Linked DNA regions of Homo sapiens. The protein of the gene in region 2 interacts with the protein of the main gene of each other region in a biochemical or structural test. Each region holds a gene or a part of one and is shown on either strand. Other genes may lie near its edges. The genes, in order: RAC1, AKT1, URI1, DAB2IP, IKBKG, BLVRA and TTC3.

Region 1 (3,500 bases), on a different chromosome or scaffold from region 2:
CATGGTGGTGGGTGCCTGTAAGCCCAGCTACTCAGGAGGCTGAGGCAGGAGAATCGCCTGAACCTGGGATGCGGAGATTGCAGTGAGCAGAGATCATGCCATTGCACTCCAGCCTGGGCAACAGAGCAAGACTCCACCTCAAAAAGAGCAAAACAAAACAAAACAAAAAACAAAATCAACTCCTCTATAAATCCTCTTAAAAGGTTCCCTCTGATAACAGGAAGACATGATAAAGCAAATACAGCAAAATGAACAAGTAGAGCAAAATACTGTCATAGAATCCAGGCCATGGGTATGTGCATGTTGACTGTACAATGCTTTCCACTAGTCTGTTTGAAATTTTTCATATTAAGACATTGCAGGAAAATATTCCTACTGATCACATGCAATCCTGCCTTGGTGGCAAAGACTCTTGACAAAAACATCTCCTTTCAAGGAAGACTACAATTTTAAGAGCTACGTAGTGATGGAGATGTGAAAAAGTAGGCAGTACTAAGGTATCAGATGACTAATGCAAAAAGACAGAAAGTTATAAAGGGTGAATTTAAGGTTTCTAAAAATGGCTTCCTGATGCTCCTCCCACTTAGCCCAACTCCAAACTTTTACTGTAACTATCATTTGAAATTAAAACACACACACACACACACATTATGTATAATTTTTTTGGCTTATCAAGAAAAAAAACCACATTATGTATAAAATCATCAACAAAGATCAGAGCCATATACTACACCTACATTTGGAGGCCAGTGCAGAATTCAAATACCTTTACCACAGGTCAAAAATATGAAACCCCATGCCTTGAGAGGAAAACACACAAAACAGCTGAAAAGCTTAAACAAATTCATGGTTCACGCCACCACCGTTCAACAGAAGTAAAGAATAAATGTAAAGAATGTTCCTGTAAGGATGATGTCACGGAAGGCATTTTTCACATTCAGCTAAGAAACTCCTGGACAGTAATGTATGTCCAAGTCAGACATTGGGCTAGACAGGCCACTAGCCCAATCTGGACTCCACTTTGTATAAAGAGTGAAACAGAGAGGGCTTCAAGTCATTCGTTCCCATTCCTTTAATCAACCAACACCAAAACAACACTATTAAAATAGTTGTGGCCGGGCGCAGTGGCTCGGGCCTGTAATTCCATCACTTTGGGAGGCCAAAGCAGGAGAACTGCTTGAACCCAGGAGGCAGAGGTTGCCATGAGCCCATATCATGCCACTGCACCCCGGCCTGGGTGACAGAGCGAGACTCCATCTCAAAAAATAGTAATAAGCAATAAAAAAATAAAAAATAAAATAATAAAACTGTTGTTTAGGCCAGGGACGATGGCTCACGCCCATAATCCCAGCACTTTGGGAGGCCAAGGCGGGCAGATCGCCTAAGGTCAGGAGTTCGAAACCAACCTGGTCAACATGGTGAAACCCTGTCTCTATTAAAAATACAAAAAATTGCCAGGCGTAGTGGCTCATGCCTGTAATCCCAGTACTTTTTGAGAGGCTAAGGCAGGTGGATAACCTGAGGTCAGGCGTTTGAGACCAACCTGGCTAACAAGGAGAAACCTCGTCTCTATTAAAAATACGAAATTAGTCAGTGTGGTGGAGCGTGACTGTAATCCCACCTACTCGACAAGCTGAGGCAGGAGAATCGCTTGAACCCAGGAGGAGGAGGTTGCAGTGAGCCGAGATCGCACCACTGCACTCCAACCTTTGCAAAAAGGGCGAAAACTCCTTCTCAAAAAAAAAAAAAAAAAAAAAATTACCTCGGCATGGTAGCAGGCACGTGTAGTTCCAGCTACTTGGGAGGCTGACGCAGGAGAATCACTTGAACCCAGGAGGTGGAGGCTGCAGTGAGCCAATATAAAATAAAAACAAATAAATAATAAAAGTTGTTTATAAATACCTGAATGTAAGATGCTGTCTTTTTTTTCCTTTTTGAGACGGAGTCTCACTCTGTTACCCAGGCTGGAGTGCAGTGGCACGATATTGGCTCACTGCAACTTCCACCTCCCTTGATTCAAACAATTCCCCTGCCTCAGCCTCCCGAGTAGCTAGGATTACAGGCGCCCCCCACCATCCTTGGCTAATTTTTTTGTATTTTTAGTAGAGACAGGGTTTCACCATATTGGCCAGACTGGTCTCGAACTCCTGACTTCAGGCAATCCGCCTGCCTTGGCCTCCCAAAGTTCTGGGATTACAGGCATGAGCCATCGCGCCCGGGTGATGCTGTCTTACCTAGGAAAAGCTGAGAGAAAATCTTGGGGCAAAGGTCCACTAAGTGAAAGTTAAAAGGTGGGGCAGCAGTAAGGTGGAGGAAAAAAAAATTATAGACCCCATGCTCAGAAAGGACTATCTTAGAATAAAAGAGTATCAACCCTATGTAATATTTCTTGGCCAATCTCAATTAAATTGCTATTCAGGAAATCTAGAATTTTCTAACATGCTTTGCAAATTATTTCTGACTTTTTTTCTTTTTTTTTCAAGACAGAGCCTTGCTCTTGTCGCCCAGGCTGGAGTGCAGTGACACAATCTCAGCTCACTGCAACTTCCGCCTTCCGGGTTCAAGTGATTCTCCTGCCTCAGCATCCTGAGTAGCTGGGATTACAGGCGCCCACCACCACGCCCGGCTAATTTTTGTACTTTTAGTAGAGACAGGGTTTTGCCATGTTGGCCAGGCTGGTCTCGAGCTCCTGACCTCAGGTGATCCGCCTGCCTCGGCCTCCCAAAGTGCTGAGATTACAGGCATGAGCCACCGCACCTGGCAGACATATTTTCATACGGGTGTATTATCAGTCTCTATCAGTCAGGGTCCCAGAAGGAAAAAACTCATCCCAGAAGATTGAAATAGAGATTTTCATGAAGGAATTATTTACACAGCCCTGTATGCAGAGTTAAGGAGCAAACAAGATGGCAAGGCATCCAATTCTAGAAATGATAAGACAGAACCATCCCTAGGGATGATGAGACAAGGAGCAGGAGTTTCCTTAAGAGCCCAGTGTAAGCAGAGGCACAGGAGGGCAGGATGGAGGGACGTACAGCCTGAAAGGACACTGCCATGGTCCAGGCAAAGGGTCAAAGCAGGAACAGATGAAGATGTATCTCCTTTAAAAACAAACAAACAAAAAAAGACAGTTTCCCTCTGTCACCCAAGCTGGAGTGCAATGGTACAATCTTGGCTCACTGCAACCTCCACCTCCCAAGTTCAAGCGATTCTCCTGCCTCAACCTCCTGAATAGCTAGGATTACAGGCGTGCCCAGCTAATTTTTCTATTTTTAGTAGAGACGAGGTTTCGCCATATTGGCCAGACTGGTCTCAAACTCCTGACCTCAGGTGAACCGCCCACCTCGGCCTCCCAAAGTGCTGGGATTACAGGCTTGAGCTACCGTGCCCGGCCAAAGACGTATCTCTAATAGTTTTTGTTTTTGCTTTTTTGAGACAAGGTCTCACTCTGTCGCACGGGCTGGAGTGCAATGGCACAATCTCAGCTCACTACAACCTCC
Region 2 (3,500 bases):
AGAACCTGGGGGTCCAGCAAGTTCAAGGGAGTCGGAGGACCGCAGGCCTCAAAGAAAGGAGGGCAGAGCTACTTGGAGGGGAGGGGCCGATGCAGCACATGGGGATGGAACCTAAGGCCAGCCCCTGGTGGGCACCTCGCTCTGCACCACAGACCTGCCTGAGACAGATCCCAGAGGCCTGCAGTTACCCAGCCCTGCCACATACAGATGGCCCACAACTGGGCCCTAATTAGCCACTCAGTCACACCTGCATGCCCAACCCGTGTCTCTGGCTGCCACAGGCAGAGCTGGGCTCCAGGACAGGGACACAGAAAATGGGGACCATGCTGGGAGGCCCACGTGTCCCCAGCCTCCCACCTAGCAGGGCGCCTGGGTCTCCATGCCAGGGTTCCCGTCTGACATGGGTAGGGTCGCACCTGCCCCCGCTACAGGTAAGGAATAAAGCCACAGCAGGGCGGAGCAGGGAGCGTCACATGTCTCTCATCTCTGTGGGATGCTCCGGCCAAGGTCCCCCGCTGGCCTTTCTGCACCTGCCCCTCCATGGGCAAGGAGGCAGCCTCACAGAGGGGAAGCAAAGGCTCTGCCATGGGGTCTGGAGGCTGAGAGCCTGTGCAGGGAGAGGCACGAGCTCTTCCTCGAGTGATGGAGGCTTCAGAGCTGGAGACCCCAATGGACTCTTGCCCCCTCACCCAAGGGGTTTCCCAAGGAGAGGCCCTGATGGGCTCTATCTAACCCCCTTGGAGGAGGGGCCCCCGGGGCAGCTGTCCACCCTGAGACTGGGCTCTGCTGCCACTTGTCCGGACCCTCCAGCTTCCAGAGCATGGGCACCAGGGAACTGCTCCAGGGTCAGCCAGCCTTGGGACTCGGCCCAGAGACCCCCGCCCAGCCAGCCTCGGCCTCAGGACTCTGCCCAGAAACCCCTGCCCAGCCGGCCTCGGCCTCGGGACTCAGCCCAGAGACCCCGGCCCAGCCAGCCTCGGCCTCGGGACTCGGACCAGAGACCCCCGCCCAGCCAGCCTCAGGACTCAGCTCGGAGACCCCTGCCCAGCCAGCCTCGGCCTCGGGACTTGGACCAGAGACCCCTGCCCAGCCAGCCTCGGCCTTAGGACTCAGCCTGGAGACTCCCACCCAGCCAGCCTCAGCTTTGGGACTCAGCCCGGAGACCCCTGCCCAGCCAGCCTCGGGACTCGGCCCAGAGACCCCCACCCAGCCAGTGCTTGTTGCTTGCCAGCCCAGGACTTGGAGGCTCCAGGGGACCCCCATCGTGGGGCCTGGTGGGCAAAGAGGGCTCCAGCCAACCCCCCAAATCTGAATCCCGAGAGGCCAAGGGGATACTTACGCGCCACAGAGAAGTTGTTGAGGGGAGCCTCACGTTGGTCCACATCCTGCGGCCGCTCCTTGTAGCCAATGAAGGTGCCATCATTCTTGAGGAGGAAGTAGCGTGGCCGCCAGGTCTTGATGTACTCCCCTACAGACGTGCGGGTGGTGAGAGCCACGCACACTCTACCCGTCAGACCCTCGCCAGGCAGCCAGGCAGGAACTGGGTGTGCCAGGACAGATGTGCCTGGGATGCCTGAGTCCCAGGGGGCAGGCGCGGTACGGGAGCTGTTTCTTAGGGCCAGCGACAGAAACGGCCCTGGGTCAACGGGAAGGCAGACTCGCCCCACCACAGCGCCCCTCTCAGAAGAGCCACCCCGAGCTGTGTCTGAAAACGGGCTGGGCCAGCTGGACGCAGGGGATGGAGTACCATGGACAGGAGGCTGGGAAGAGGTCTGGGCCAGTCTGCACAGCCTTCCTGGAGGAGGCAGCCCTAAACCAGCCAGTCCCCAGCAGGCACCAGCAGCAGCTCGGGCCCCAGCTATGGCCACAGGGGCTGCGGGGCTGACAGCATTCCCCAATCAACCAGGGTCGGCCAGGTGGCGACAGCAGGTGACAGTGGCTTGTGTGGGCTGCCCAGCATGGCCGCCCCCCCCGCCCCGCCGCCACCCACCAGGAGGATGGAGCATGGCGTCCACAGTTAGAGGTCAGCACCACTCAGACTGAGGGCCGGGCTCGCGGGACAGGACTGCCCACTGCCGTGGGATCGCACTCCCTGTCTAGGGGCCTGGAGCACCGTCTTGGGGACTGCCGATGAAGCCAGACACGGAGGTGGCCCAGCCAGCTGGGCAGGGGCCCCAGGGCACAGAGGGTGCCAAGTCCCCAGGCTGAGACCCACACTCAGGCCCTGCCGCCGTCGGCCCTGCCGCGTCCCACCCGTGGGTCATTCAGGTACACGGGAACATTCTCCCTCAAGTTTTGCAGCATCAGCCGTACGCAGGCGTTCACACTTCAGAATCAGAGCAGCTGTCCTCGGTGATAGCCCAGCAAGTACCATTTTTCATACTGACACTCGGAAAAAAATGTTCCACTTACATTTTGCCAAGCAAGGAGTTTGAACAACAGGGAACTTACTAATTAGGCAACTGCTTCATCTGAGGGGTCACTGGGCAGGGGTTAGGGAGGGGGCCAGGGTAAGGGGTTGGGGTCCCTGAGCTCTGGGGCCTGGGTTTTCATGCCACACTGAGCCCCAGACAGGGACACCTGGAGGGATGTGGGGGACAAGCAATTGTCCCATCACCAGACCACCCACCACCCAGTCCTGCTGGGTCTTCGTGGTGAGCCCAGACGCGTCCAGCCCTCCCTGGTGCACAGGGAAGTCCCAGCAGGGCAGCAGCCCCAGGGGAGCTCAGAGGACATGGGTCATGGGCATCCCAGCAGGCATTCTACTTTCCAGGGAGCCACGGGGGAGTTCTTTAATAGAGGTGAGCCACCAAGGCTCGACACATGGCCACCCCCCGGCCAGGTGACCTCTCCCTCCTACCCCGGCCCCAGCTGCCCAATGCCCTTCCCACCAGCACCACGGGGCGTGGTCTCCACAAGACCAGCCCTCTCTCTGCCCAAGCCAGGGCTGCTGGGGGGATGCTGGTGGAGGGTGGGGACACCCCACCCAGCAGGGCCTGAGTGTGGGAAGAGGCTGTTGTCAGGTCTGGGGTGGACCAGGAAGGGGACAGCCACAGCCCACTCATAGCTGCCTGACACCTCTGGAGGACGGCCAACACCCAGTTGCAGGGAGGATGATCCAGGGCCCAGAATCTGCCCCTGTGCCCAAGAGCACTCATCAGGAGACCCCACCCACTCCGCAAGCCCTCCATGCCCCTGCCAGTGGGCTGCCGAGCAGGCGTGGTCCTGCCACCCTTGGGTGCCGGCTCCTGTCCCTGACCTGGGATCTCGCACACCCCCGAGTGTGCACATACACGCACATACGTGCCACGCAGCTCCACCCCGCCTCCCACGTCCCCTCCCCCAGCCACAGGGCCCCTGCAGGTGCAGCGGGCAGGCAGGGGCGCTCAGTGAGAGCAGAGCAGGCTCAGGGGGCTGCATGCAGCCCACCCCACCCGTCCCCCATCCTGGGCCACCCCGCTGCTCACGCCCACCCGCCTGCATGCCAGTCTGGAGCTGTC
Region 3 (3,500 bases), on a different chromosome or scaffold from region 2:
CAGTTACCTTGATTTTTTTCAAATACCACGGGTAAGGGTAAAAGAACTTGTTGCCAAAGTAACTCAGGATACCTTATTTCAAACTACATGTAACCTATTTTGCTATAGATACTCTAAACAAATGAACAACTAGGTTTTAGGATGTAAATTCCCATTTCCTAGACAGGGCCTAGTCTTTCTGTTGCAATCTGGCAGCTTTAAACTTTGAAACCCTCTTTCCAGTTTCTTCAGATGCTTCCAACAGAACTTCCTTTCGTTCTGGAATAGTGGGTAGTGCGGGATGAGCAATGGCTGGGGGTGGTGTTAAGGAAGGTGATACAAATTCTTTTTCTATAACAGTTCCAGAAAAAGCCTAGAAAACAAAAGTCAGGTTATGGTAATAAAATGCAAATAAGACACCCACAAAATCTTCCCATTCACTCATTTGGCAATTCTTTTCATTAAAAGTAAATTCACGAGATTTTTGGCTAGACAACACTACTACACCAAAATACTAATTGTTCAGAGAAACCAACACCATTAAGTTTTAATTTCACCACCAAACAGAAGTAATTTTTACAGTATACATGCAAGAAAACAAAATGTAAAATGTAAATTTTATCTGGGAAAAAAAAGAAATGGATAAATAAAAGGTCTTCAAACTTTCATACATTCCATTCATGTCCAGCCCATGCTGTGAAAAATAATGTATTAAAATAAAAATGCTATTAGGGTGTCAAACTCTGACTTTTGTACATCAGTTGATGAATGAGCTATCCTATGATGGCCTTGCTGCCTGCTAGCCAATAGCTTAGTTTCACCAGTACTGACATTTCTAACTGATATCTCTTTGGTGGTGTTTATGCAATTATTTAAATATTTTACTGCATATTGCCTCAATTTTAAAAGATCAGTGGAAGTTGAAAAATAAAAGTGCTGATACTAGTAGGAATAAGTACAGGTTTCAAAATTTTAATATAATTAACTCAATGACAGAAATCAGAAGTTCCACAAAAAAAGAAATGACTCAATTTCACCTGGATGTTTGCTGCATTTAATCTGGTCAACTATATGTTCAACTGGAACAGAATTAAAGAATGTGCATAAATTGCTGGAAATATCTGTACATGTCGTTTTATACAAAAATAGGTAAGACACAAGGAGTTAATTTTTTTTTTTTTTTTAAGATTGCTGGTATTTAGAACCTCCATCCTTCCCTCTACAAATGAAAATTTGACAGGTGAACTTTAATGTACATTTTGTTCTCCTCTGTCTACCAAGTGCTCAAAATTAGTTAAAACAACGTAACACCTAAATAATTTAAAAAGCCACCTTCTTCTACCTTGCCCCACCACTGAAACAAAAACAAAGAAAGCCATCTCTCTCCTACATTATTTTTGGAGTTCAACTGGTAAAAGCAGCTTAAAGCTTACTTTCCTAAAAACTCCACTTTATCACGATGAGCATAGAGCCTTCTTCTCCTTCTTCTATTTAAAATGCCTTTGAAAAAGAGGTATTTTAGCATTTAAAAAGATACTGAAAAGGATATCTTCCAAAGTACTTACCATAATCATGAACTATTTCTTTGATGTTAAAAAATGTATAGCAACTACTATTAAACATTTCCATACAAAATGCAAAGCTACTAAGGGTGAAATAAAAAATAGGTTCCACACTCTAGCTGTACCATGATACACTAAGTCCTTACAAAAAACTAATTTTCAAACATTTATCAGCAATTACCTGATAACATCCATTACCTGTTTTCTAACAGTATGGAAGACTATCAAATAAGGTAAGATACTTTCCAGGTCACCTAAGATCATTATACTAAGAAGAGGGGAAGAAAACATTCTAGTCATATGTACTGTCCCTAAATGCTACCAATCTCCATCCCCAATTACCATTTAATACACTGAGTATAATACCATTTAGTAAAAGCAATGGAATTTTTAGATAAGGTTATATATATGCATGTATCTTATTGTATATACAAATGTGTACACTGGTTTGATCCAGGCATGGGTTCCCCAATCTTCCTAAATACTTTTTAAATTGAAAACTTCAAATACGCACCAAAACACAAGAATGAAGAAATCAATAGCCTTATATTTCACAGACATCCTTATTTGGGGATTTCCTAACCTCCCCTGCACCACCACCAAAAACTGTAAGAAGTGTGGTGGGTGAAAGTGTATTGAGTGTGCACTATTTTTTCTATGGACAGGGTCTACAGCTTTCATCAGATTATAAAACAATTCCATAATCCCCCAAGAGTTAAGTTTCACTGGTACAAGGTAAAATATTAGACTTTAGGTAATTATCTGCTATGCATGCATTATTTTTCTTTAACTTAGCCAAGGTATTTAAAAGAGAATAATGTAATCTGCTCCTTACACTATCAGAAAATGACCTACTGGTAATTTATTTAAAATAAACTGCGAAATAATTTCCTAGCTACAAATGTAATACATAATGCCAAGTAAGACATTTTAAATTTCCCATTTTGCTGAAATAGAACGTTAAGACAAGTAATGTGTTTATCAAAAAATAAACTATTTGATTATCACAATATTTGTACTGTTTGTGACTATTAATTTTTTATTAATTAGTACCAAGAAAGTATAAAACCTAGAATTAATTTAATCTTATGACTTTTCAGATTAAATAGCTAAAACTGGTCAAAGATACTATATGAAATAAAGAATTAAAAGATACACACACACACCTCAGGTGTTACTGATAAGGGCAAAAGTTTCTTTTGATTTTCTTGTGGTTCCTCTTCCAAAATGCTCTCACTGGTGTCACTGCAAGTGGCTTCTTCGCAGCTGATACTCCTCAAAACTCCCCGCCTATCATCAAATTCAGCAGCACTGCTTTCACTAGTGTCGCTACACACACTATTCTCTCTACTTCGAGACTTCAGGATGGATTTGCGAGGGACATATTCTCCATTCACAACATCAACAAAGGCTCTGTGATATTCAAAACACATATGCATTCACTATACGTAACTCATAAAACTGAGAACAACTTTTTGAAAATTTCCTTGAATCTATTCTAGAAATTAATCTGAAAATTTTTATTACAATCTTATATCTAAAATAGTCACAATCACAATAATTTTATAGCCTCAAATGGTATCTTCATACTATTTTGAAAGCTATTTCTCTGGCCTAATAATAAAACACAGCATGTTATTTATTTATTTTATTATACTTTAAGTTCTAGGGTACATGTGCACAACGTGCAGGTTTGTTACATATGTATACATGTGCCATGTTGGTGTGCTGCACCCATTAACTCATCATTTACATTAGGTGTATCTCCTAATGCTATCCTTCCCCCCTCCCCCCACCCCATGACAGACCCCGGTGTGTGGTGTTCCCCACCCTGTGTCCAAGTGTTCTCATTGTTCAATTCCCACCTATGAGTGAGAACAAAAACACAGCATGTTATTTTTAAGCATGTCCTAGGTGGCAATAGCATGGTTTGCCAAAATTCTACATAAAGTTTTAGAC
Region 4 (3,500 bases), on a different chromosome or scaffold from region 2:
TTCAACAGTACACGGGAGTTGAATCGCCATTCTCTCCCCGCAGAAGACCCAACCAGGAGCCCAGGCACTTCAGTTTCCCTATCTGGGCTCATCTTAGGGAAAGCAACAAACTACACCAACACCGAAACAGGATACAAAGGGATCTGAGTTCCAGACCCGGATTTCTCGTTAACATCTTTAGGTAACCACGGGCAAGTGGCCTTGGCTCTGTGGGCCTCAGTTTCCCCAGTTGTCAAGGGAAACAGTTGGCTCCTGGTACTGGAGCCATAAGTATCCATCTCTCCAACCTCCCCATTCAGCAGCTGGGCAAATAGGCTCCAAGCCCCTCCCTGTACCCCCAGGTCTTAGTAAGTACAGAATTAAATAGAAGGATGGAGATAGAAGAATGAAAACCTGAACCGCTGAGATGAGGAGCATGCCCTGGGTCCATTCCAGCGCTCTCTGAGTTGCAGCAACCAAGAAAGTTAGAGGGAGCCCTGGGGCTTCTGAGCATGAGCTTTCGAGTCCAGTGGACTGGGTTCAAACCAGTTATTTCACCACCCCGACAGGAAAATGCAGAGGAAATATCACACCCAGAGCTCCGTTTCCCACCTGGTAAAGGAAAGTGACAACAATAACCCCTACCTGCTAGGAGGATTGGAGAACTGAGATGAGACATGAGGTAATCAGGGGGAGCTCTTGGCATGGGGCCGGGCACACATTCAGCTTGGTGAAAGGGAGCTGTTCTCTTCCTGATTATTAAAGATGATGAGGGTGGGTCAGGAAGGACAAAGGCAAGGGCAAGAGGCTGACATTCCAGCAGATTCACTGGGGCCTGTGGCCTCCTTCGAGGACCTAGAGAGCTCTGGGGATTAGGCCTCAGGTGTCTGCCAGGCTCCAGGGACCTCACACCAGGGGACTCTGAACCCTCAGCACTAAGGGCTTTGGTGGAGAAACATGGCTGAGGCCCTGAGACCTGTCGCATGCCCTGGGAAAGGGCATGGTTGGCAGGTCATGAATGACAGCAGGATCCAGGGGGCAGGGGCAGGCCGGGGAGGTCCCACCTGAGCTATCCCAGGCAGGTGGAGGAGGCAACCAGATGCCAACGGGGCCACTCCCCTGCCTCCCTCCCAAGCTTTGACCAAGACTGTGAGAGACAATTGCCATGAACACCCAGTGAAGTCATTGGCTGTGAAGGGAGGTGGCCTTCTCAAAGCCAGGGCCTGACCTTAGAAAGGTCTGCCTGCCCACGGATATCGCAAGGTGAATCTCAGGACCTGGAGGTGGGCAGAGCTGGGCTCCACCATTTCTGAGCTGTGTGGCTTTGGGCAAAGCTTTCATTCTCTGGGCTACAGTCTCCTCACCTATGAAATGAGGATAGTATCAGTATCCATCTCACAGTGTTGTTCTGAACACTGCATAAGACAAGGCAAGTTCAGAGTTGAGCTCATTGCCAGGCATGGAGCAGGCACGCAGCACACAGGAGCCGTAACAAAAAGGAGCCATTTTCACCCTCATTACACAACCTGAGAGGGAGTGAGCTCCCCAATCCTTGAGGTATGTAAGGGAGAGGAGGGACTGGAAAGGCTAGGGCCAAGCCCCAAATGAAAGATTGTGTCTTGGCAGAAACAGAAGAAGAGACAAGGCAGAAAAGGGCATAATGATTTCACAGGTGTCATCCAAGGTGGAGGCAGAGAGCCAGGCCTAGGGCCCTTGCAGGGAACATTTGAAAACTGGGGAACCACAAAACCCCCCCACCTCAGGGCTGTTCTCAGGCTCGCCCAACTCATGAAGTCCAAGCTGTTGCCCCAGAGGCCTCTTGCAGACCTTATCAAAGCCAGGGTCCCAGCCAGGCACGGTGGCTCATGCCTGTAATCCCAGCACTTTGGGAGGCCGAGGCGGGTGTATCACCTGAGGCTGGGAGTTCGAGACCAGCCTGACCAACATGGAGAAACCCCGTCTCTACTGAAAATACAAAATTAGCCGGGTGTGGTGGTGCATGCCTGTAATCCCAGCTACTCGGGAGGCTGAGGCAGGAGAATCGCTTGAACCCGGGAGGCAGAGGTTGCGGTGAGCTGAGATCGCGCCATTGCACTCCAGCCTGGGTAACAAAAGCAAAACTCCGTCTCAAAAAAAAAAAAAGCCAGGGTCCCCTGAGAAGTTACCCACCCCCCATGGTGGCACACAGGTCCTTACCTAACTGTTCTCTTGGTTAGGAACCAGTTGTATGAAACCATCCTCTCCCACCACGCGGGCAAGATACAGAGGCATGCAAGAGGGGTGTGTACAGGCACGGAGGAGGACCTGACCATCTCAAGAGAAAAACATCTGCAAAACCCCCAGCTCCCAGCCAGGGCCTGGCAGGTGGCTGGACCCCTAGAAAAACTCAGATGAAAACATGAACAACATAATCAAAACCCCTCATGGCTATGGGTATAGGCATTCCAAGAGGCAGGAGAGCAAGATTAACCCCCCTCGACAGATGGGGAAACTGAGGCCCTATGATGTGCCCAGTCATGCAACCAGTCCGCGGCTGAGCTGGAACTACAGCCCCTGCCTCCCACTAACCACTGCTCTGTCCCCTAGAAAGAGACTTGTGCCCTAGTGCACCCCAACAAGCTGGCCTCCCCAACAGACTGGGGGCTTGGCAAGGGCTGGGAGCACATGTGATTCATCTCCATGTGCCCCTGCACCCAAGCTGAAGCCCAGCACATAGTAGGTGCTTAAGAGGAGCTGACTGGCTGAATGAATGGGTCAGAACTTTATCCAGGGCTAGAGGAAAATTTCTGTTTCTCCTAGCAGCCCTGGGGAAACACAGGGGTCAGAGACAAAACTTTTCTTGATTTTGGTGTGACTAGGTGGGGAGGCACCTTGCTGATGATACCCTTCTGGGGAAAGGATCCCCCCAAATCCATGGGACATGCCCAGCCTTCAAGTGGAGTTAGGGACACAGTGGGAAAATGCAAATGGCCCTCACCCTCCGAAGGTCACTGTTTCTACCCCACCTCCAGCTACCCTCCAGCTTCGTGCTCTACCCCCCACCACAGCAGGTCTCACTCTGCCCATCCTTCAGATGGGGAAACTGAAGCCCAGAAAAGGGAAGAACCTAAGTCCCTTATTGGTCAAACTAGGGAGACTGCAGATACTGTCCCTCACTCACAGCCCTACCAGGGACAAAGCCCTGCTCCCTTCCCCCAGCCTGGCCACCTGCAGAACCTGGCAGCAACCAACTCTTCCTTGCATTTTTCTGTTTCTGAACAAATACACAGCCTGAGTTCTTGGTCATTTTCCTTCCCTGCTAGTGCCAGAGGCCAGAAAGGGTGTGGGGGCAAGAGTCTGATCCAGGCTGAGATGCTAGGCACCACCCACTCCTCTGAGGTCCGATGCTACCACACCATGGGACCAAGCCCCCATGTGGATGGGGAGGCTGAAGTTCAAGGTCAGAAGGGACTGGCTCAAAGGCCACAGGGTGGCTTCCTCAGCCTGAGTTTCTCCCTGGGTGGGGCCCTGCCCTCAGGTGG
Region 5 (3,500 bases), on a different chromosome or scaffold from region 2:
ACACGGCTGGCCTCGCGGCAAGGACGCTGGCTGCCCCGTCATCTTTCACCTGAGCCTGCACTCGCCCCCTCCCGACTCCCTCCTTCTCCCTTCGCAAGGCCAGGCCGCCTCTGCTGGGGCGGGAACGGAGCTCAGCTCTCTCCCCCGCAAGCAGGGGTTTCTGAAGAAGATCTCTTTTGCCAGCTTGAACAAAGGCCCGCTTTTGTGTACCTTTGTGTATCTCCGGTGTTCTTGTCAAAAGAGGAGGACAGGCACAGAGGCCCGCGGGGACAAGGCCACAGGATGACGGAGATGGAGGCTGGAGAGGTGCAGCCGGCGGCCCCCGGCGCCGTGGAGAGGCCTGGAAGGCAGCTCCCTCGCGGCCCTGGCGGGGAGCCCACCCTGCCGACACCACCGCTAGCTCAGCCTCCAGGCCTCCAGAAGCGGGAGGCCACGCGTTTCTGTGGCTTCGGCCCCGCAGTCTGTGGTGCTTGGTCACGGCAGCTGTAGAAAACTCATCCACTTCCCACACAGGAAATCAACGCCTTAAGCCAGGCGCTCTAAGCCCTGAGTGGAGCGGCGTGCACAGCCCACCATCCACGCCTTTCCCCAGGGGAGTGGAGCCTGGCTGTGGCAAGTGCCAGGTACCCGCCAGCAAGTCTCCTCTCCAGCACTTCTCTCCACCTTGCCCCTCAAAGGGAGCACGGCCCCTTCCTGACTACCATCGCCAGGATCCTGCGATCAGCCAAGCCCACACACAAAGACCCTGAAACCAGGCGGTCTGTGCTAATGACACGATTTATGGGGGGAGCCTTGGGCCACACAGCTGGACCTCTGGTGGCTACAGCCGAGTGACCAGGGTTGGCCACGCAGGCGCTCGGTGCCCACGCGGCCCACCCCCCGTGAAAACCCCGGCCGCCACGGCTGGGGTGAGCTTCCCGGTTGTGACTCCGTGCTCGCTGTCCCACACTGTTGCCGAAAGAAACAGGTGCCGTCTGCACAACTCCCCTGGGCGAGGAGCCGCTGAAGCTCACGCCTGGTCTCTCCTGGAGCCCGCCCTGTGCGCCCTGAGCCTTCGCTCACCGTAACCTGTGTCCTTTCCTTGTAATAAACCGGAACTGGGAGTGTGACGGCTTTTCTGAGTTCCGAGCCCTCCCGGCACAGCACTGAGCCCCAGGGTGCTTTGGGGGACCCCGACCACGGGTTCCCTTGTGGAACACTGGCGTCACCGCGGGTTTTCAGAACCTGGCCCTGCCCCGACTACCTGCTGGCATCTCTTCAGGTGCTCCACCTCCCGCAGAGCCTGCTCCTTCTGCCTCTTCAGATCGAGCTTCTCCAGGCCGAGTCTCTCCACCAGTTTCCTGGCCTCCTGGAACTTGCACATGAGGAACTCCTTCTCCTCCCTCTGGCTGGCTTGGAAATGCAGAAGCTCCTCGCAGCGCTCCCGCAGAATCTGGTTGCTCTGCCGGATGGCATCTGGTGGCAGAGGGGACAGTGGAGGGGAGCTGGGCAGCCCGGCCTGCCGGGCCCTGCCTGGGCCCACATGGGCCTGAGGCTCAGGAAGTCAGAGGCCAGAAGTGGGGCCACCCATCCTGGTGCCCCCACCCGCCATAATACCACGCAGCTTCTCTCAGGGGTGGATGGCGTCTCAACACTCCCTTTTGTTTCTTTAAACACTTCCAAAATCCTTTACACTAATGCCCCTCACTTTCTGCAAGAAAATAACACCAAACACATCAGCTTCACTTAAAAGTACGTGTTGGCCAGGCACTGTGGCTCATGCCTGTAATCCCAGCACTTTGGGAGGCCAAGGTGGGTGGATCACCTGAGGTCAGGAGCTCCAGACCAGCTTGGCCAACATGGTGAAACCCCGTCTCTAATAAAAATACAAAAATTAGCCCGGTGTGGTGGCACACGCCTGTAATCCCAGCTACTTGGGAGGCTAAGGCAGGAGAAGCACTTGAACCTGGGAGGTGGAGGTTGCAGTGAGCCGAGATCACACCATTGCACTCCAGCCTGGGGGACAGAGCAAAACTCTGTCTCAAAAAAAAGAAAAAAAGTATGTGTTAAATGCCACTTTTTTGAATTTTTATTTTTGTAGAGACAAGGTCTTGCTATGTTGCCCAGGCTGGTCTCACATCGTTGGCCTCAAGCAATCCTCCCACCTCGGCCTCCGAAAGTGCTGGGATTATAGGCATGGGCCACTGTGCCTGGCCTTATGCCACTTTGTTTGTAAGTGACTCGAATTCATTTGTATTCTGGTCAGTCTGAGGTGTGCCTGCCCTCAGATGCTCGGTATTGGTCCTCCCTGGCCTACATCTCTGCTGTCTTCTAGATCGGGGGTCCTAACACGCCTGCAGACTCCTAGGGTCAGCCTCCCAGGCAAACTTCACTGCAGCATTGCTGGCTGCAGCCTGAGAGGCCCAAAAGGCTTGGACCAGGCAAGTTAGTGGCGTCTCTGAGCCTCAAAGTCCTCATCTGCATAGTGAACAGAGACAAGAACATTCATCTTACAAGACGAGGAGGGTTAAACGAGGAAGCAGAAAACAAACGGGAAAAACCGCTGGTCCTCCCCTCACCAGAGCATGTGTGCCAGTGCCAGGCAGTCAGCAGAGGCCACAGGAAGGAGAGCCCCACACCCAGGAGACACCCCAAGTAGTGAAGAAGCCATCTGAGGTGACAAAACTGATAAGTGATGTGCCAAGGTTCTAGCAACTCTATAGCAACTACAGAGCTGGATAAAATGGGGCAGGCAGTAGCTACCCCGTGATCAAAACCCTCAACCAACTAACTATTGCCTGCTGACGAGCGCAACATCCACCCCCCATCAGAATCCCGCTTGCTCTGCCCAAAGCTCAGCTCATCTGCAACTTGTCTTTTTTTTTGAGACAGACTCTCGCTCTGTCGCCCAGGCTGGAGTGCAGTGGCGCGATCTCAGCTCACTGCAACCTCCACCTCCTGGGTTCAAGCAATTCTCCCTGCCTCAGCCTCCCAAGTAGCTGGGATTATAGGTGCCCGCCACCACGTCTGTAGCTAATTTTTGTAGTAGAGATGGGGTTTCACCATGTTGGCCAAGCTGGTCTCAAACTCCTGACCTCAGGTGATCCCCCCGCCTGGGCCTCCCAAAGTGCTCGGATTACAGGCATGAGCCACTGCACCTGGCTGGCAACTTGTCTTTTAAAAAATGTTCTGAACTGAGGTAAAATTCACATGACATCAAATTCACTATTTTAACTAATTCAGCAGTTTTCGGTGTATCCATCAGGTTGTGCAACCATCCGCACTATCTAATTCCAGAACAGTTCCGGGACCCCATAAGCAGTCGCTCCCCCAGCACCCTCCTCATCTGCATCTGCCTCTGCAGATTGGCCACTTCTGGACATGTCTCACACTAGTGGAGTCACACACTAGAGACATGCAACTTCTTCGTGAATCTCTCCCTCAACATTCTAAGTACAGCCTCCTCCATGGACATAAGCATGTACATCTTGGGGGACAGACATCTTCTGGGCCCTTAGGGG
Region 6 (3,500 bases), on a different chromosome or scaffold from region 2:
ACTAGAAAGTTGAAAGAAAAAAGTCAACACCTTTGCAGAAACAACTTGCTTGAAGCAATTTAAAGCAGGTTTCTCCTCCCCCCGTATCTACTGCAGCCGGTCTGCAAAACAGTCTTGGAGTTTGAGCCTTTATTTGCTTTGACTCCGAAACACAACGGGCTCAGGTGCACACAGATGAGCTATCTCTCTAGAGGGATGAAGAGCCAGCCTGTGACCCCAGAGAACAGAGTTCTAGACCTGGCTTGGCACCCACTAGCTATGTGATCAAGAGCAGGACACGGGGTCCCTTGTGCCTTAGTTTCTGCACCTTGAAATAGAAGAGGGGGCAGATGAACTTAGATGACCCTTATGTTCTCTTTCTGTGCTAACATATCACTTTAACCCACTTTACTTCTTTTTTTTGCGGGGGGTGGGGGGTTCTCTTTCGGTTTAACTTTCTTGGTGTCTGGCTTGGTTAACTGAAGGTTTTTAGCTTCTCTTCTGGCTCCGCAAGCAAACTAGGTTGAGGCTCAGGTTGCAGCCATCAAGTTCCCAGGCACAAAGGTTCTGTACAGATAGGGCTTTTCCTTGGTACTCTGCCAAAGAGAAGCCACTCTCTTCCCCACCCCACTTTCCAGCCCCTATCTGCTCTATGTCCCTCCTCTACCTCCTCCTCACCACTTCAAAAGCTTCTACCTTTTACTGAAAGTGATCTTAATATAACAGGAGAGAAATGAGATGAGGTCAATTACTTTCACTAAAGTCTAGTGTATTTAAACTTGGAAGGGCATAATCACGTTTGAAAAGAGCTGCTTATTAACTCAAATAATTGTAGAACAATGTGTAACTCTATTTCAAAATAGGGTTGAGAGCAGAACTTTCTGGAGTCCCATACCTGTTCTTGGGCACTGACCACTCCCAGAAGGTCCAGATCATAACTATGTTCCCTTAGTGCTGAAAGATGATTTCTGCCCAGCCGAGTGCTACAGGAACTGCGTACACAGGCACAACTCACAAGTGCGGGGGCGGGGCGGGCAGGGGAAGGAATGCAAATCTTCCACACGCCAGAATATGTGTGGGTCTAACTTTTGTTTCTAACATTTTAAAAGCTCAATAATTATGCTTTCAAAGATCTCTAGAGAGAACATCTTTCTTCAGCAGATCGAGATTTTTTACAAGCAAGATTTCACAACGTGTTATCTGCATCCTCAATATTAATTACATAAATAATTTTATTCTCTACACTGACTATATCATGTTCTTTCACTGTTTTGTTTTCCTTTAGATTTTTTAAGGCGCTCCAAGTTCTCAGATTTCAGGTGAGGAACTTCAAGGCCTTTTCAAAGTCTGAGGTTTTCTGAGTTTGTAAAAGAGAAACGGCTAAGTTACAAGAAAAATCATTACGTATAAATTTGACTTATATAAAATATTCAACTATTCACTCAGGCATCAGCAAATATTTGTTTTAGCACAACAAACAGCACACATGAGTTGAAATATGGTGGACAGAAAACAAACCTAAAGAAATCCTGTAGCACCTAAAAAGAGAATGACACGACATTACTTCATGAAACAGAGCCAGGGGTCAAAAGCAGTAGTGGCCCACGGGTGCGCAGTATGTGCTTTGTTTTTCAAAAACATTTTTTGCCTATTTCCTTTTATTCCCACAATATCCCTAAGAAGTAGAGCGCCCCCCGTGCCCCAACCTTCATTCTGCAGAGGCAGAAAGACATTGGATCCCTTGCTGATGGTGGTCCCTGGTGGTCCCTCCTCAGCAGGCAGGCTGACTGTACTCTTAGCATCCAGCTGGGTTTAGCCAGTGGAGGAGATCGGCAGGCAAGAAACAGAAAGAGAGAGGCTAGGGTACTTGTGCTCCCCCTGCCTGGTTCCTCAGGCTGCTGCTCTGGCAGTGGCTGCATTCTGTGATGGCCACAGCAGGTCTGGAAGGGAGTGGCTCCTCCAGCAGTATTCCAGCCCCCTCCTCCCAGCTCTGGTCCCCTCCCTACCCCTTCAAACCAGAGAGGGGATGGTGCCCACTGAAGCTCTTCCCTGTGTGCCTCACCATCACTTGTTGGCTCCTCCAATCCTGCCCACTCTTCTATAAAAAGTCTCCTTAAAATTCCTTTCATTTTTATGCTTTTCACTGTTGGGATTCCCAACTGATAAACTTGGCAGTATATCAGTTTGCAGCATCCCTGGCCTTTCCCCACTAGATGCCAGTGGCACATACCGTTTTCCCCCCAGCACGACAATCAGAAATGTCAGTAACAACTACTGGGTTAAGGGCCGGGCACGGTGGCTCATGCCTGTAATCCCAGCACTTTGGGAGGCCGAGGCGGGCATGGGGCTGATCATGAGGTCAAGAGATCGAGACCATCCTGGCCAACATGGTGAAACCCCATGTCTACTAAAAATACAAAAATTACCTGGGTATGGTGGCGTGCACCTGTAGTCCCAGCTACTCGGGAGGCTGAGGCAGGAGAATTGCTCGAACCTGGGAGGCGGAGGTTGCAATGAGCCGAGACCGTCCCACTGCACTCCAGCCTGGGTGACAGAGCAAGACTCCATCTTAAAAAAAAAAAAAAAAAAAAAAAGGAACTACTGGGTTCATGGAAATCACTAAATTATTGCTGACAAAGCTCTAGAGTTTCACATTCCAATTTGCACGTGGGAGAGATGCAAAATCTCACAGTAAATTAATAGCACAGCCAGGACTAAACAGCTTCCTTGGCTTACATTATGTTTCCCTTTTGATTTCAGTCTCTTTCCCACATGCAAATTGGAATCTGAAACTCCAGAGCTTTGTCAGCAATAAATTAGTGATTTTCATTAACCCAGTATTTCTCACCAACATTTCTGATTGTTGTACTCGGGGGGAAAAGGGTATGTGCCATTGGCATCTAGTAGGGAAAGGCCAGGGATGCTGCAAAACATCCTGTGATGCACAGGACACCTTCCTACCCCAACTACACATACACAAAGAATTATCCAGCCCAAAATGTCAACAGTGCCAGAGTTGAAAAAGCCTGGATTACACATCATGCAGAATGAACTACAGCTGTGACCTTCCTCCTTGTTCCTCCTCAAACGCCCTCTCAAGTATCTATTATTGCCCCAAAGCCAGGTGACTCACAGAAGTATGGGGAAGGATTAGGGAGAGGGTGACCCTCTCAGGTGGGGCCAGCTGCCAGCCTCAGAGGTCTAAGGGTAAAGGTAAAAGCAACTCTTGCCCTGGAGGGAGTTGGATACTTTGGGATCTATTGAGAAAAATATAATAGCTACATGGGACACAAGTCTGGAAATATATACATCAAAATATTACCAGTAATTATGTCTCTAAGTGGTGAAACTTTTAGTGACTACTTTCTTTTTGCTTCTCTGTACACTTTAAACTTTTCTATAAAGATTAGTTAACATAATTATTCAAAACTCTAAAAAACATTACAAACTATGCCACTTTCACTGACTGCATCCCTCCTAGCCCCAAACTGAACAGACTTTCACAGGGCAATAACATATCA
Region 7 (3,500 bases), on a different chromosome or scaffold from region 2:
ATCAGATTACATCTATAAAAGATGAAAAGCAAACACTTAAAACAATCTAACGGGGGAACATAAAATAATAAAAAATCAAATGCAGATGGGATTTCACAAAGAGGAGATTTGAATCTTTTGGTCTAAATCAGCCAATATTTTAACATTAACTATAAATTATTAAAATATAGTTTGCTTATGCCCATCCTTAAAATGCAGAATCTTTGAGGAAAAATATAGGCATATCAGGAATACAGACTCTTGTAAAAAATTTAAAAAGTCAGTATCATCTCTCTTGTGGAGCTACCAGAACAGGTTTTTCAAACAGAAAAGGGGAACAAACGTGGGGAACAAACGTGGGGCGCTTGGCTATGTTAAGAATTCTTATCACTAGAATACTGCTTCGAGACGTTCATAGTACTTTCCAAAAGAAGCCACCCACCTCAAAGAGCCCTGCGCAGCCCCAGTGACCCATGAGTGTGGTAGCCGTCATTTTATTAGCCACTGTTGGCAATCATCAAAGTATTCACTCAGAGTGGGGAAATTACTTAATATCAGCGATATTAACGATTTCCATGTATTTAGCTTTGTGACACACAATGCACAAGGGTCTTCAAATGTTTGTTTTTTACACCAGTGGTAGAAAATTGTCATTCTTCGGATTCAACACACTGGTGGATGACACTTTAGTGAAGTGTGACTACCTAGAAGAGCAGGAAGGCAGCTCCTGATTCTGACTGGGCCAGCCTCTTCCAGAAGGTGACTCTTCTGTCAGGAGATCACGACCCTGGCAGGCCGGGCAAGCGCTCTGCCCTTTAAGCCACTGCTTAAAGCACTGAAAAGGAGAAAACAAAATCAGAAGATGCCTTCAGGACCATGAGGAAGCTTAGCTCCCCTGTGCTGCTGGGCTCCTTGGCAGGCGTGGCTCACTTGCCCTTGGTCTCTTGGGCCTGGAGCTGCCCAATACTCAGGGACACCAACACCCGCTCAGGCCAGAGTGTGGACAAAGCCCCAGCCGCAAACGATCCCACCTCAGGGTCAGATCCTGAGCGCTCTGGGCCTCCAACCTGGCCTCAGGGGGTGGTCTTGCCCTGATCCCCGGTTCCAGGCTCGGCTCTTCCACTTCAGCTGCGCCAAATTCCAGAGCCTGGCATTCTCGGCCCTATGACCCAATCACTCATTCTTAGCCCATCCCTTGGCCTGGCCTTGGCCCTTGGCTCTGGAACAGCCCTCCAGCCTGCACGCCACACTCCTGCTGCTGCTGCCCACACTGCAGAGGCTGTGGACAGTCAGCTAGCCCAAATATAAGACCCTGTACCCAAGGAGGCACACCACACCAGAGACTTGGCAAGTGGTCTCAATTCCTTTCAGTGAGCATGCTGTATTTATCCCGTTCCAAGGGATTAGCAAATCCCCATGGCAGAGACCTGATCTGTTCTAACCCAGCAGCAGGGGTGCACACAAATGCTCACGGTACCTAGAACACCATGATAGTTCACACACAGATCCCAGAACGGTACGAGCAGGACTGTCCCTGGGTCAGGCAGAAGGGACTCAGCTAGGTTTAGTTTTTCTCCTCTAAAATGTTAAACTGACTTCATATACTACACTAAGTCAAAAAAATGGTTTCACTGTTTCTCCATTTAGTCAAGTGTGTAAGAAATCACCTTTCAAGGAACTAATACTGCTTTGAATCTCAGCACTAACGAGTGGCTGGAGCTGCTGTTCCCCTCTCCCCACAAGGGATGGAAAGGACGGTCTCCAGAGCTGCCCTTCCTGCAGAGCTGGTGTGAGGACAGGGAGGCACTGAACACTGACACGGGAGGTTTGCAAAGAAAATAGTTTGAAAGCACAATAAATACTGATGACTAGAAAACAATTCCTTTCTTATTTTGAAAATATTTGAAGGTCCCAATGCATGCTGTAAGGATGGCCAAAAAGAGCTCTTACCCCTTTGTGATACTTGTGCCCACATTTGAGCACACGCACGTTTTTTGATTTGAACACCTCGTGGCATATTTCACAGGAACTTGCACCCAGTGCCTGTGGAAACAAACACACCTGAATAGTAAAGAATAACTACAGTTGTTTTTATGACACGAGTTCTTCCTTCAAGTGGCCTTCAAACATCTTCTGCCACAAAGGGTGGCAAATTATTCACAATTACAGCTAAACAGTCTGAGGAAACAACTTATTTTTTAATAGCATTTCTTAAGAAAAAATATAAAAATACAAAAAGAAAAGTATAAAGTTCTAATTTCCTCAGAGAAAAAACTGTTTTATGTGACCAGAAGATCCCCAGGTGAAGATTACCATACCTAAAGTACAGTATGGGATAATCACATGGCATGGTGTGAATTAATCATACATTTAATCATCTAACAGTTGAGGGTAGTAAATTCCAACACATCCACACAATGGGCTATTGTGTAGCCAAAAGGAAAATCATGACGGAAGCCCATAATCCCTGACATAGAAAGCTGGCCCCAACAGCCTGCTGAATGAAAGCAGCTAACAAGACAACATGTATCATATATAACTCACTTTTTAATAAAGGGGCTGCATGTATACATACATGCCTAGAAAAACAGTTAACAGTGGTTGCCTCAGGGTAAGGGAGATTTAATCTTTTTCTTTACTATTTTCTAGTTTCTATGAGCATGGATTACTTGTGCAAATCAAAACAAAACAAACGGATGGCTCATCCGGCAAACATCCATGGGCAGGGTTGGTGTCGGGTGCTGGACGCAGAGATGAATGGAGGGCTCTGGCCTCAGCGGCTCACAGTCTGGTGAGCATAGACAGTGCTTTCGATGTGAGAGCAGACCTGAGTGTCGCCTGGGACTCCAGGCACAGTTCTCCCTGCAGCTCACAGCACTTACCCTTACTGCACCATTAACTTCTACTCTAGCTCACTGCCTCTTAACTCTGAGCGCCTTGAAGGCACAAAATGAGTCCCATCTGGGTCTTTAGCAGCTGGCAGAAAACCTAGCTCAAACTCATGCTCTAAAAACCCCTGCTGAGGGAGTGGGCGAATGCAGGCAGCCCTGGCAGTGGGATCAAGTTCAGGGAGTGGCACTGGAGGCATCACCCCAAGGCTGAGAAGACCTTGAACTGCTGTTCAGGGTTTTGCTGTCTCTCCCAAGGCATGACTCGGCCCAGGAGGAGATGGGGCAGATGCTGCAGAAGGAGGGTTCATGCCCCTCCACTGCTGCCCATGACTCGAGGGTCAGGGAAGAAGAGGAAGTGCCAGACCGGGGAAGAGCCATTGAAGGCCTCTCCAATGCCCAGTGCAAAGCTCGGAGCCAGGTTTAGTTTGAAAAAAATATACACTTAACTTGACCGTTTTCTATTTCCTAGAAAAGATGGGCACAGTATATTTCTAACTAAAAGAAAAAAAGGACAACCACAATAAAAAAAAAAATGGAAAACAACCAAAACATTCAGCCCCTCAGAGAACATACAAAGTGTGACTAGCGTATTCAGTTTTGACTAATTCACATATCCATGCATTCAAGAGT

What was found.
Region 1: of the proteins of AKT1 (region 2) and RAC1, one has a biochemical effect on the other in vitro, tested with the Homo sapiens proteins (one study listed by BioGRID).
Region 3: of the proteins of AKT1 (region 2) and URI1, one has a biochemical effect on the other in vitro, tested with the Homo sapiens proteins (one large-scale study listed by BioGRID).
Region 4: of the proteins of AKT1 (region 2) and DAB2IP, one has a biochemical effect on the other in vitro, tested with the Homo sapiens proteins (one study listed by BioGRID).
Region 5: the proteins of AKT1 (region 2) and IKBKG form a complex in vitro, tested with the Homo sapiens proteins (one study listed by BioGRID and IntAct).
Region 6: the proteins of AKT1 (region 2) and BLVRA form a complex in vitro, tested with the Homo sapiens proteins (one study listed by BioGRID).
Region 7: the proteins of AKT1 (region 2) and TTC3 form a complex in vitro, tested with the Homo sapiens proteins (one study listed by BioGRID and IntAct).

What each region holds. Positions count from the first base shown.
Region 1 is NC_000007.14:6,377,527-6,381,026, reverse strand, and holds part of RAC1 (ras-related C3 botulinum toxin substrate 1), read right to left. Parts: intron 1-3,500. UniProt on the Homo sapiens protein: Plasma membrane-associated small GTPase which cycles between active GTP-bound and inactive GDP-bound states.
Region 2 is NC_000014.9:104,778,749-104,782,248, forward strand, and holds part of AKT1 (RAC-alpha serine/threonine-protein kinase), read right to left. Parts: intron 1,469-3,500; coding exon 1,340-1,468; intron 1-1,339. UniProt on the Homo sapiens protein: AKT1 is one of 3 closely related serine/threonine-protein kinases (AKT1, AKT2 and AKT3) called the AKT kinase, and which regulate many processes including metabolism, proliferation, cell survival, growth and angiogenesis.
Region 3 is NC_000019.10:30,011,739-30,015,238, reverse strand, and holds part of URI1 (unconventional prefoldin RPB5 interactor 1), read right to left. Parts: intron 2,955-3,500; coding exon 2,708-2,954; intron 353-2,707; coding exon 170-352; 3' UTR 1-169. UniProt on the Homo sapiens protein: Involved in gene transcription regulation. Acts as a transcriptional repressor in concert with the corepressor UXT to regulate androgen receptor (AR) transcription.
Region 4 is NC_000009.12:121,654,634-121,658,133, reverse strand, and holds part of DAB2IP (disabled homolog 2-interacting protein), read right to left. Parts: intron 1-3,500. UniProt on the Homo sapiens protein: Functions as a scaffold protein implicated in the regulation of a large spectrum of both general and specialized signaling pathways.
Region 5 is NC_000023.11:154,554,120-154,557,619, reverse strand, and holds part of IKBKG (NF-kappa-B essential modulator), read right to left. Parts: intron 1,456-3,500; coding exon 1,244-1,455; intron 1-1,243. UniProt on the Homo sapiens protein: Regulatory subunit of the IKK core complex which phosphorylates inhibitors of NF-kappa-B thus leading to the dissociation of the inhibitor/NF-kappa-B complex and ultimately the degradation of the inhibitor.
Region 6 is NC_000007.14:43,761,680-43,765,179, reverse strand, and holds part of BLVRA (biliverdin reductase A), read right to left. Parts: intron 2,550-3,500; exon of another isoform or gene 2,406-2,549; intron 976-2,405; exon of another isoform or gene 875-975; intron 1-874. UniProt on the Homo sapiens protein: Reduces the gamma-methene bridge of the open tetrapyrrole, biliverdin IXalpha, to bilirubin with the concomitant oxidation of a NADH or NADPH cofactor. Does not reduce bilirubin IXbeta.
Region 7 is NC_000021.9:37,198,754-37,202,253, reverse strand, and holds part of TTC3 (E3 ubiquitin-protein ligase TTC3), read right to left. Parts: intron 2,023-3,500; coding exon 1,930-2,022; intron 815-1,929; coding exon 680-814; 3' UTR 1-679. UniProt on the Homo sapiens protein: E3 ubiquitin-protein ligase which catalyzes the formation of 'Lys-48'-polyubiquitin chains. Mediates the ubiquitination and subsequent degradation of phosphorylated Akt (AKT1, AKT2 and AKT3) in the nucleus.